2 linked regions of the Homo sapiens genome follow. The protein of the gene in region 1 purifies or fractionates together with the protein of each later gene. This does not show direct contact. Each region holds a gene or a part of one and is shown in the gene's direction. Other genes may lie near its edges.

Region 1 (5,235 bases):
CCTTTTTTTGGATTGATTTTTAAAACTATATATTTATCCTCGATTTGCTTGCTAGTTATGTACATTGGGAATATTATTTTAGCAGTTACCATATCATGTGTATTTTGCATATTAAAAAGTTTGATATTGATTAGTACTTTTACCAATTTCTAGAAAAATTAAAGGACCTTAGATCATTTAAACTCATTTACTCTCCATCTTATGTGCAAATTTGAAAAATATTTTAAGTGTCTATATGTTTCTAATCCCATAAGACTGTTTTATTACTGTTTTATGCAGTTAATATTCATTTATAATTAGCCATATTTTTCCTTTCCATTGCTCTTCATTTCTTCTTGCATGTTTGTGCTCCTATCTGAAATCATTTTCCATTTGAGGAATTTCCTTTAATATTTCCTTTAGTGGTGATGAATTCTCTCAGTTTTTGTCTAAACATATTTTTATTTGACTATGGTTTTTTAAAGGATTTTTTTCTCAGTGTAGAGTTCTAGGTAGGTAATTATTTTTGCTTAGCATTTTGAAGATGTTGCTTTATTGCTTCCTAGGTCCTTGTCTCTACTGAGATGTTAGCCATCAGTCTAATTGTTGCTCCTATGAAGATTTTTTTTCTGATCATGTTTAAGATTTATACATTGGTTTTTGTTATTAGCACTTTTCCTATAATATTCCCAGATATGGTTTTCTTTGTATTACACTACATCAGGTTCATAGTGCTTGCTCGAGGTCTTTTCTTTTTTTAATTAAAAGAATCCTTGGTCATTGTTACTTCAAATTTTGCTTCTGCTCTATACTCTCTTCTTTCCTTCTAGGCTCCCAGTAATATGTATGTATGTATGTATGTAGACCTTTTGTTTGTATCGCATGTAAACACTTTGTCACATTTTCTGTATATTTCCACAGAAATTTATTTTACTAATCATCATTCTTCAGCTGTGTCTAACCAGCTATTCCATTTATCTATTTCGTTCTTAATTTCAGTTATTGTATTTATTTTTAGAATTTACATTTTATTACTTTTTAAATTTCTAATTTCCAGTTAAAATTTCCTAATTTTTAATTTAATTTCTTAAATATATTGATAATAAGTTATTTTTAAAGTCCATGTCTAGTAATTCCAATAGTGTATCTCTGGACAGCTGTTTCCTGGTTTTCAGTCAAATGTTCTTATCTCCTGGTTTGCTTGGCAATATTGTGTTTAATGCTGGCTATTGTATATTAAAATATAGAGAGATAATTCGAGTCTCTGGATGCTTTTGTCTTCTTCCAGAGAGGATTTAGAATTTACTTTTACTTCTGGCAGGCACATAGAAAAGGGGCAAATCAACTGATACCTGTCAGAGATTGCAACAATTTAAAGCTGGTCTATTTCCATTTTACCTCTGTTTCTAGGGTAGCTTTCCAGGGGTCCCAACTGATAGCTTGGTGGGCCCCAATCTCTATTTTTTTGTCCATTAAGCCCATAAGACTTCTTGAAGCTCGCTTAGTTTTCAGCAACTCAGCCACCAATTGAGAATTGATAGGTACCATTAGAGAAAAAAATGGTACTAAATATCAGAATCACCTCTTTGCACTTCTGTTCTGCTTGGGATCTTGGTATCTCAAGTCTTCACTCACTTGGTAGCTCTCTGAACCCTTCACGTAGATTTTTTTTGTTTGTTTTTTTGAGACAGGATATCACTCCCCGTCACCCAGGCTGGAGTGCAATGGCGCCATCTCAGCTCACTGTAACCTCTGCCTCCCAGGCTTGAGCAATCCTTGTGCCTCAGCCTCCCAAGTAGCTGAGATTACAAGTGTGCACTGCCATGCCCAGCCAATTTTTGTAGAGACAGGGTATTACCATGTTGCCCAGGCTGGTCTCAAACTCCTGAGCTCAAGTGATCTGCTCACCTCAGCCTCTCAAAGTGCTGGGATTATAGGCGTGAGCCACTGCCCCTGCCCCTTTTACACAGATTTTTCAGTAGTTTTTAAGATTTTCTAGATGTTCTTGGTGGGAGCACTGCATACTACAAGCTACTCTAATATTATTAGTAGTGAAAGTCTTTGATTGAATTTAAAGAAATATATTTTATTGTGTTTTTCTTCTGATTACAAAAATAATACATGTTCATCATAGTACTTTTAGAAAATAGCAAATTGCATACACACAAAAATCAAGATTTCCTGTAAGACTGCCACTTAGAGCTAACACTGTAATATTTTACTCTCTTTTCTTCCAGTCTTTAAAAAATTTGTATTTTTATATGTGTATATATGTGTATATTTATATTGCCAAATTTGTATCATAGTATATATTCTGTTTTATAACCAGGCTTTTCACTTAAAAATGTATCATGAACATTTTTCCATGTAACTAGATAGTCTACAGAAGACAATTCTTTACAAAATTTTTAAGCTAATAAGTCATTCTCTGTAACAGGCAGGAGTGAGCAATCTACATATTAAGGGTCACTGTCAAAAATATATCTGTTCTGCCCCATATATAAGCAAAAGGCAGCTAATATTTGCGGCAGCCATCTAACAAAATAAGCATTACAAGGTTGGAATAGAATTCTGACAATCTCAAACAACAACAATATATAGTAACTGAAGAAAGGATGAAAAAATGTAGAGCAGGAAATTAAAAATTGAATACACTAGGTTACATGATGAGAAATACATTTTGATTCCCTATTGTCTACCAAGAAGAACGAGATATGAAAGAACAGATTGGCTGGGCACAGTGGTTCACACCTGTAATCCCAGCACTTTGGGAGGCTGAGGTGGGCGGATCACGACGTCAGGAGTTCAAGACCAGCCTGGCCAACATGGTGAAACCCCATCTCTACCAAAGATACAAAAAATTAGCCGGGCGTGGTGGCATGCGCCTGTAATCCCAGGAACTTGGGAGGCTGAGGCTGGAGAATTGCTTGAACCTGGGAGGCAGAGGTTGCAGTGAGCCGAGATCGTGCCATTGCACTCCAGCCTGGGGGACAGGGCAAGACTCCGTTTCAAAAAAAAAAAAAAAAAAGAAGAAAGAAAGAACAGATTAAAAATGTTACCAGGTAATAGTAAAGAGAGTAGACAGAAAAAGAAAAGGAAAGGGAGAAAATATAAAGAAAAAGAAAAGATAAGGGGAAGGGTCAAATAGTATTAACTGTAACCTAAGGGCTTTCCATTGTCGTTGTCAAGCTATGCCTCCAGAGGCTATTTCCATTGTTTCTTTGCAGGAGAAATGAAGTAGAAGACAAAGAACCTAAGGGAAATAGGAAGAAGAGAGAGACACAATGGCTAAAGAAGGAAGAGTTAAAATCTCTATCACATAGATATTGATTTCTCTAACAACACTAATATGAATCTTTACATGTCTTTTCCACTCTCACAATTTTAGTTTAATGATGAGAAAAAATTGATGAGCTTTCATCAAAATCTTCAGGATGTCACAGAAGATCAACTCAGTTTGGCCTCAATCCACTATATGCGATCTCACTACCAAGAAGCTATAGATATATATAAGCGAATACTGCTAGATAACAGGTCTGTGTCCTTTTATGCCCACTCTCCATTCCTTTCATTTTGTTAGTTTCTTCTTTAACTAGTTTGAGAATCTAGTGTCCTCTGGATCTAGTACCACTATGTGTTCAAATCTGTTTAGTTGATAATTTGGTGAGATTAAGAATTAGATATTGTCTAAATCAGGCTTTCTCTACCTTTTTTTGCATTGTCACCCTTCTAAAAGACTTTTTCCCCCAATTGCCCTCCCATGAAATTTTAATATACTGATAGATGTATATTAATATATATCCATATATGTACTATATGTATAACTGTGCTTTACATATAAAATGATTATGATTTTTTCATCCTCCCATTAAGAACCAATTTTTCCCCTTTGGGGGTAATACTGATATTACCCCAGTTGAAATGTATGGTCTAGATGTATCAAACTTAGTGTTATAGTTACATCGTAGGTAACTTGCTGACAAAATTAGATACAAATCATTCTTAAGAATTTACATTCCAACTTTAAACACTTGGCCTCTCTCTCCCTTCCCAAAAATATCTCATCCCCCTTCTTTCCATCCTCTTTTGCATTACCTTCTTAGTCTCCTACCTGCTTCCATTTCCAGCCATCAAGCCTATGTGTCTTGTCTGTTGGTCTTCTGTGTGGAGTGTGCTTGTGTTTATGTTCAATTATTGCATATATTAGTTTTTCAGTGTGAACAGCGTGAACTTTCCCTTTCTTCTCTAGTCATCTTTCATTCTACTTATATCAAAACACCCAAATATTGCAATGCAAAAAGAAAAAAATTATACTGATCATATCTTGCCCTCTTTCTTCATAAGGCAGGTTCATGAACTGTCCTCTTTGCCTTGTCCATTTGAGCTTTGTAATTTGACATTTCCGTGAAGTAGACTTAAATGGTTAACCCTAATTCTTTCATCTAATAGGGAATACCTTGCCCTTAATGTTTATGTGGCCCTCTGCTACTACAAGTTGGATTACTATGATGTGTCTCAAGAAGTTTTGGCTGTTTACCTTCAGCAAATTCCTGATAGTACCATCGCACTCAATCTTAAAGCCTGTAACCATTTTCGCCTTTACAATGGCAGAGCAGCTGAGGTATTGATGGAAGTGTGTTTTTAATGTACTTCATTCCAATTTGAATTACTTTATACTTTCCAAGTTATTCATGAAACTCTGTTATCTGTAACTCTTGATTAATATCCCTTTATCATTGCCACTGTGATTCTATAAGAACCTAATTATATGTTTATCAGGTATTCTAAAAAGAATGTTGACTTCTGAATTATCTGTGTTATGTCCATTAAATTGTAGATGATTTTACTGAGATGCCCTACATTTAAAACCAAATGCTTATGTTTAAAACCAAATGCTTCTGGCCGGGCGCTGTGGCTCAGCACTTTGGGAGGCCAAGGCGGGCAGATCACTTGAGGCCAGGAGTTTGAGACCAGCCTAGCCAACATGGCCCCATCTCTACTAAAAATACAAAAAATTAGCTGGGTGTGGTGGTGCATGCCTGTAATCCCAGCTACTGGGGGGTTCGGGGGGCGGGTGGAGGTTTCAGTGAGCCGAGATTGAGCCACTGCACTCCAGCCTAGGTGACAGAGCGAGACTCTGTCTCAAAAAAACCCAAAAACCAAAAAACAAATGCTTCAGCTTCTTCCTCTAAAATATGTGTGTGGCTCTGTGATTGAATGCCACCAACATACATCCAGTAAACCACATTAGAAACC
Region 2 (5,235 bases), on another chromosome or scaffold:
TGGACACCAGGGAGCACTGTCTGAACGAGTTCAACTTCCCGGATCCCTACTCCAAAGTAAGTGCAGTGTGCCCTGGCCTTCCGCTCGCTCTTGTCCCCGTCCCGCTGGCACCGCGTGTCCTGTCTCTGTCCCGCTGGCTCGGGGCATCCTGTCCTGTCTGAGGCCATGCAGGTTTGGTAGCGGCCCCAACTCCAGCCCTGGCACCACAATAGCCAGGGCCTCTGTTGGCAGCATCTGCTGAGGAGCTGTGTTACCCCCACAGATGCTGGGGCCACTTAGGGGTGGGGACTGCTGTGACTAGAGAAGAAGGGTGTGAACCCCAGTTTGGATGTGTTCCTGACAGACACAGGCTGCCTGCCTGCAGGAGCCAAGGGCCTCCCAGCTTCTGTGAGGGTGGGCGATTGTGGTTGGGGACTGCTTTCCCCTCATGGGGAGGGGCTGGAACCCTGGACCACCCTGGCTCCCTCCTAGGAGGCTGGACAGTGACCAGAGGCCTCCTATCCCGGCAACGTGCAGGGCCGTGCAAGGTGGGCCTTTCCGGGCGTCCGTTTTGCTTCCCCAAGTCTGGCGGCCAGAGCCCTCCTTGGCCCTTTCTGCCAGGAGGCAGCGGGCAGCAGCGGAGGCATGGACTCCTCCCACCTCTTCTGGGAAGGGCCAGCGCCATGCCTCCCTCCCCTCACACGCCGAGCCTTGTGACAGCGGAAGTCTGGGTGTCGAGGGTTTTGAGGCCAGGGCTGTGGGTACCTGTGGGGGCCGTGTCCTCCACTCTTGTCCTGCCCTTCACCCACTGCTCAGTCACATGGGGGCTGAAGTTGTCCTGGGCCTCGTCCTCAGAGCCCCGTGCAGCTGTGCGCTGGCCACTGTCCCGGACCGATAGGCTTGTGCCTGGTGGGGTCCCAGTTGGGCCTGAGTCTTCGATCCTGAGGGGCGTGGTATGGAACAGGCTGCGCCTGGCAGGTGTCCAGGGTGGGCTGAGGCCACGTCTTCACTCAGGCCTGGCATCTGGCACTCTCCACAGGTGAAGCAGCGGGAGAATGGCGTGGCGCTGAGGTGCTTCCCCGGGGTCGTGCGCTCCCTGGACGCGCTGGGCTGGGAGGAACGGCAGCTGGCGCTGGTGAAAGGCCTCCTGGCGGGGAATGTCTTCGACTGGGGGGCCAAAGCCGTGTCTGCGTAGGTGTCTGCGGGCTCGGAGCAGGCTCTGCAGCCTGTGGGTGCCTGTCCTGCCCCAGGCTTGCGGGCAAGGAGGTGGAGCGGGTCCCTTGGGGGTCACGTGGCGCTTGGTGGCTTGGTGGCTCAGGGCTTTGGGGCCCAGGGAGTGCACATGGCAGCAGCGCCAGGGGCTGGGCAGGGCGCAGCGCCCTTGTCTGTCCCCTCAGGTTCTGAGGAGGCCCCTTCCTTAAGCATGGGTGCCGCAGAGGCCTAAGGGTGTGGATTTGAAAATCGGGGCTGGCATTTTCTATTGTCAGAATCCAAATTCATGTTTCCTATGTGTGGTAGGAATTAAACATTTCTGATGTGATGATCAAAGGGTGCTTTGCAAAGCAGTCCCCTAGACTGGCCTGTAGGACACGCAGGTGTCTAGCACCTGGCGCCGTCTCCTGGGGCTCTGAATCTTGAAAATGAACCCCCCCACCATCATTTACCTTCACTCCCAAAGAAGCTGCTTCCAGTCTCTGGGCCTCCCCAGGCGGCCGCACCACCTCTCGTGGTCCCTGCTTTTTTTCATGTGGGGCTGGAGGGAAATGCCTGGGTTCTCAGCCCTCCCTGGGTCCCACTCGTGTCTCGAGACATAGATGAGAACGCCGCCTCCAACCATGGCTGCCCCTCTGGGACACAGGCCCCTCCCGCAGCCTGTCAGGAGCATTGGAGGAGGGTCCTGACCCATGGGATTGGCCTTGTGGCTGGGGGCTCCCCACACCGCCTGCATGGGTGCCAAGCACAGGGACCATACTGCGGCTGCCAGTCACCGAGAGGCTTCCCTGGCCCCGTGGCTCCGAGTCCACCTTGAGAAACAGCCTGTGCTCTCTCAGACCTTTGCTTGGTGGCCCCCTGAGCCTTCTGCGGATCGCAGCATGTTAAGAACGCTGTATCTGTTCTGCCTGGGAGTGATTTGGGGTCTTCACGTTGAGCAGCTGCCTCTGTCCCACCTGGGAGGGATTTGGGGTCTTAGCAGCTGCCTCTGTCCTGCCTGGGAGTGATTTGGGGTCTTCACGTTGAGCAGCTGCCCCTGTCCCACCTGGGAGGGATTTGGGATCTTTACATTGAGCAGCTGCCTCTGTCCCGCCTGGGAGGGATTTGGGGTCTTCACATTGAGCACTGTGGCTGAAGGTTTTTGTTCTGTTGTCTTAATTTTCTTTTCTCCTCCTCCATGCAGTGTCCTTGAATCCGACCCCTACTTTGGGTTTGAAGAAGCAAAGAGGAAGTTACAAGGTACGGATGGCCAAGTAACTTGGGGCCTTGCCTTGTGCTGGGGCCATGCCTGGACGTTCTCTGCAACAGCGAATGCAGTTGCGGTCGGGGTCCAGGCACCTCCCCTGCTCAAGGCTCTGTCAGCTGGGCTTCGGGGGCGGGGAGAACTTGCTTCCTGGAGAGACGAACACCTGAAGACGCGTCTCCCTGACCCCTGACCTGGAGCACCGGGCTAATCATGTGTCCCTCTCTCTGTCTCAGAAAGACCCTGGCTCGTGGATTCCTACAGCGAGTGGCTTCAGAGATTAAAGGTATGTGGAGGGGCCTCCCACCTCTGCTGCTGGGGACACAGCGGGGCCCGGGGGGGTGGTCACTGGAGGGAGGTGGGCATGGGCTGCCTCGGGTGGCCCTCCCCTCCTGTTAGAGTCTCACCATCCTGCGAGCCAAGGGTCTCAGCATCCCCTGCCCCACACTTGCCCTCCTGTCGTGACTGCTTCTTAGGTCACCTGCTCTAGGCACAAAGCCTTGCCAGAAGAGACAGGCACTGGCCCCTGCAGGCCAATCCGTCCCTGGCGCCTCTGGGGTCCTGAAGCCCCAGTCTCAGCCCCTGCAGGCTGGCCCGTCCCGGTGCCTCTGGGGTCCTGAAGTCCCGGTCTCAGCCCCTGCAGCCCAGCCCAGTCCCGGCACCTCTGGGGCCCTGAAGCCCCTGGTCTCGGCCCCTGCAGGACAGCCCATCCCTGGCATCTCTGGGGCCCTGAAGCCCCCAGTCTCGGCCCCTGCAGGGCAGCGTGACGGGCAGCAGGGGTGCGGACTGACTCGCTTGGATGCGCCTGTTCCCAACTGAACGTCCTGGTTTTGTCTTACAGGGGCCCCCTCATAAATGTGCCTTAATTTTCGCAGATAACAGTGGAATAGACATCATTTTGGGAGTCTTCCCCTTTGTCAGGGAGCTACTCCTTAGAGGGACAGAGGTGAGTGTTGAGGTGGTGGGTGGGGCCCTTCCCCTGGGCTTCTCTGCTCTCGGTGGGGTTGGCGCCGCTGTGGGCCTCTGGCGGTGGTCGGGGCTCCTCCGGACGCAGCAGGTAGGTGCAGGCAGCAGCACGGGGGAGGCGGCCCAGAGCCGTCATCTGCTGGGGTGGAGGCTCCGAGCCCCCTGGGCTCAGGCTGAGGGTCCATGTGCTGAAGCCCAGGGTTGACGCCAGGCTCCTGGAAGGGTGCTCACAGCAAGGAGGCTTTGGGGCTGTGACTTCACAGACAGGCAGGTCCCAGGGGCAGGCTCTAAACTCAGCTCTGCCCCTCGGCTCAGCTCCCTCCCAGGGGCCACAGAGTGGCAAGGTCAGGCGAGGTCCCTGCTCCTCAGCAGCAGGTGGCTGGCCAGGCCCGCTGGGCACAGCACCCTCACCCAGCCCAGCCACTCGAAGGCCGGGGTGCACGCAGGCTCCATGCTGGGCCAGCACAGGTTCCTAAAGAGCCTGGGCCCTCCTCCTGCAGGTCATCCTGGCGTGCAACTCAGGCCCCGCCCTGAACGACGTGACCCACAGCGAGTCCCTCATCGTGGCAGAGCGTATTGCGGGCATGGACCCTGTCGTGCAGTGAGTGTTGGCGGGCAGTGCTGGGGGGGCCTTGATGGGGAGGGGCACCAGCTGGGCAGAGTGGGCCATGGGGATTGTCACTGAACTGGGAGCTCCTGGGGGCACTGACCACCTTGTATCTGGCAGCTCTGCGCTCCAGGAAGAGAGGCTGCTGCTGGTGCAGACGGGCTCCAGCTCCCCGTGCCTCGACCTCAGGTAACCCCGCACCCTGCACCTGTTCTCTCCCTCCTGGGCTCTGTGCCCTCTGTGCCGTGCACCTGCACCCAGGTGCATGCGGGACACCGACCTCAGGACTGCCCCTGCGGCCTCTCCTGACCCCAGGCCCGGATTGATCTCAGGAGGGGACAGATATGCCATCCCCGAAGGTGGCCTGGGGAGGGTGAATGGATTCAGGGTCTGAGGTGGTTACACATGGGCTGGGTTTGGGGACTTGGGGCAAGAGGGGCCAATGTCCCTGTGGCCACTCAGCTGAGACCGAGGGCGACCTGGGCAGCTGCCCGGTGTCTGTCACCTCCGTGTCCCACATAGATGCCAGGCTCTGCTTCTGTGGTTCTGGAGGTCATTAGTCAATTGTATGTGGTGCTGTCTGTCCTCCTGATTGCAGAGGAGGAAGGAACCCCTTAAATGAGCGGGTTCTGAGTGCTGGGGCCGCTGGTCTGCTCTGCCTGGTGGGATTCTCCAGTGCTGGCTTCATCTGTGCCCCAGCCCCACTCTCACCAACAAGGAGGGCGTGAAAATGACAAGGAATCCATCCCTAGAGTTCACAGGAGATCTAGGGCAGAGTTTCCAAGCTGCAGCTGCTCTGGCCCTGTGTGAGCTGCTGCTCTGAGGAAGCCCCAGGCTGAGGCAGCTACCAGGCGGAGGCTGGGTTTGGAGGCCTCCACATCAGGGAATTGAGCGGTAGGGGTTTCAGCCTTCACGTTGGTCGCCGCACTGTATGGGAAGTGGGGTCTGGGGTCTGCTTGCCCAGTCTCACCGTCCTCTTCCTCCCCAAAGCCGCCTGGATAAGGGGCTGGCCGCACTGGTGCGGGAGCGTGGCGCGGATCTGGTGGTCATCGAGGGCATGGGCCGTGCTGTCCACACAAACTACCACGCAGCCCTGCGCTGCGAGAGCCTCAAGCTGGCCGTCATCAAGAACGCGTGGCTGGCCGAGCGGCTGGGCGGCCGGCTCTTCAGCGTCATCTTCAAGTACGAGGTCCCAGCCGAGTGAGGCGCTGCAGCTGCCGGACTCTTC

What was found.
Region 2: the proteins of IFT56 (region 1) and PANK4 purify together in Homo sapiens (affinity purification with mass spectrometry; one large-scale study listed by BioGRID and IntAct). This does not show direct contact.

Annotation. Positions count from the first base shown.
Region 1 is NC_000007.14:139,143,778-139,149,012, forward strand, and holds part of IFT56 (intraflagellar transport protein 56), read left to right. Parts: intron 1-3,206; exon of another isoform or gene 3,207-3,367; coding exon 3,368-3,513; intron 3,514-4,428; coding exon 4,429-4,600; intron 4,601-5,235. UniProt on the Homo sapiens protein: Component of the intraflagellar transport (IFT) complex B required for transport of proteins in the motile cilium.
Region 2 is NC_000001.11:2,508,823-2,514,057, reverse strand, and holds part of PANK4 (4'-phosphopantetheine phosphatase), read left to right. Parts: coding exon 1-56; intron 57-1,018; coding exon 1,019-1,170; intron 1,171-2,374; coding exon 2,375-2,430; intron 2,431-2,670; coding exon 2,671-2,720; intron 2,721-3,275; coding exon 3,276-3,380; intron 3,381-3,900; coding exon 3,901-4,001; intron 4,002-4,127; coding exon 4,128-4,196; intron 4,197-4,997; coding exon 4,998-5,211; 3' UTR 5,212-5,235. UniProt on the Homo sapiens protein: Phosphatase which shows a preference for 4'-phosphopantetheine and its oxidatively damaged forms (sulfonate or S-sulfonate), providing strong indirect evidence that the phosphatase activity pre-empts damage in the coenzyme A (CoA) pathway.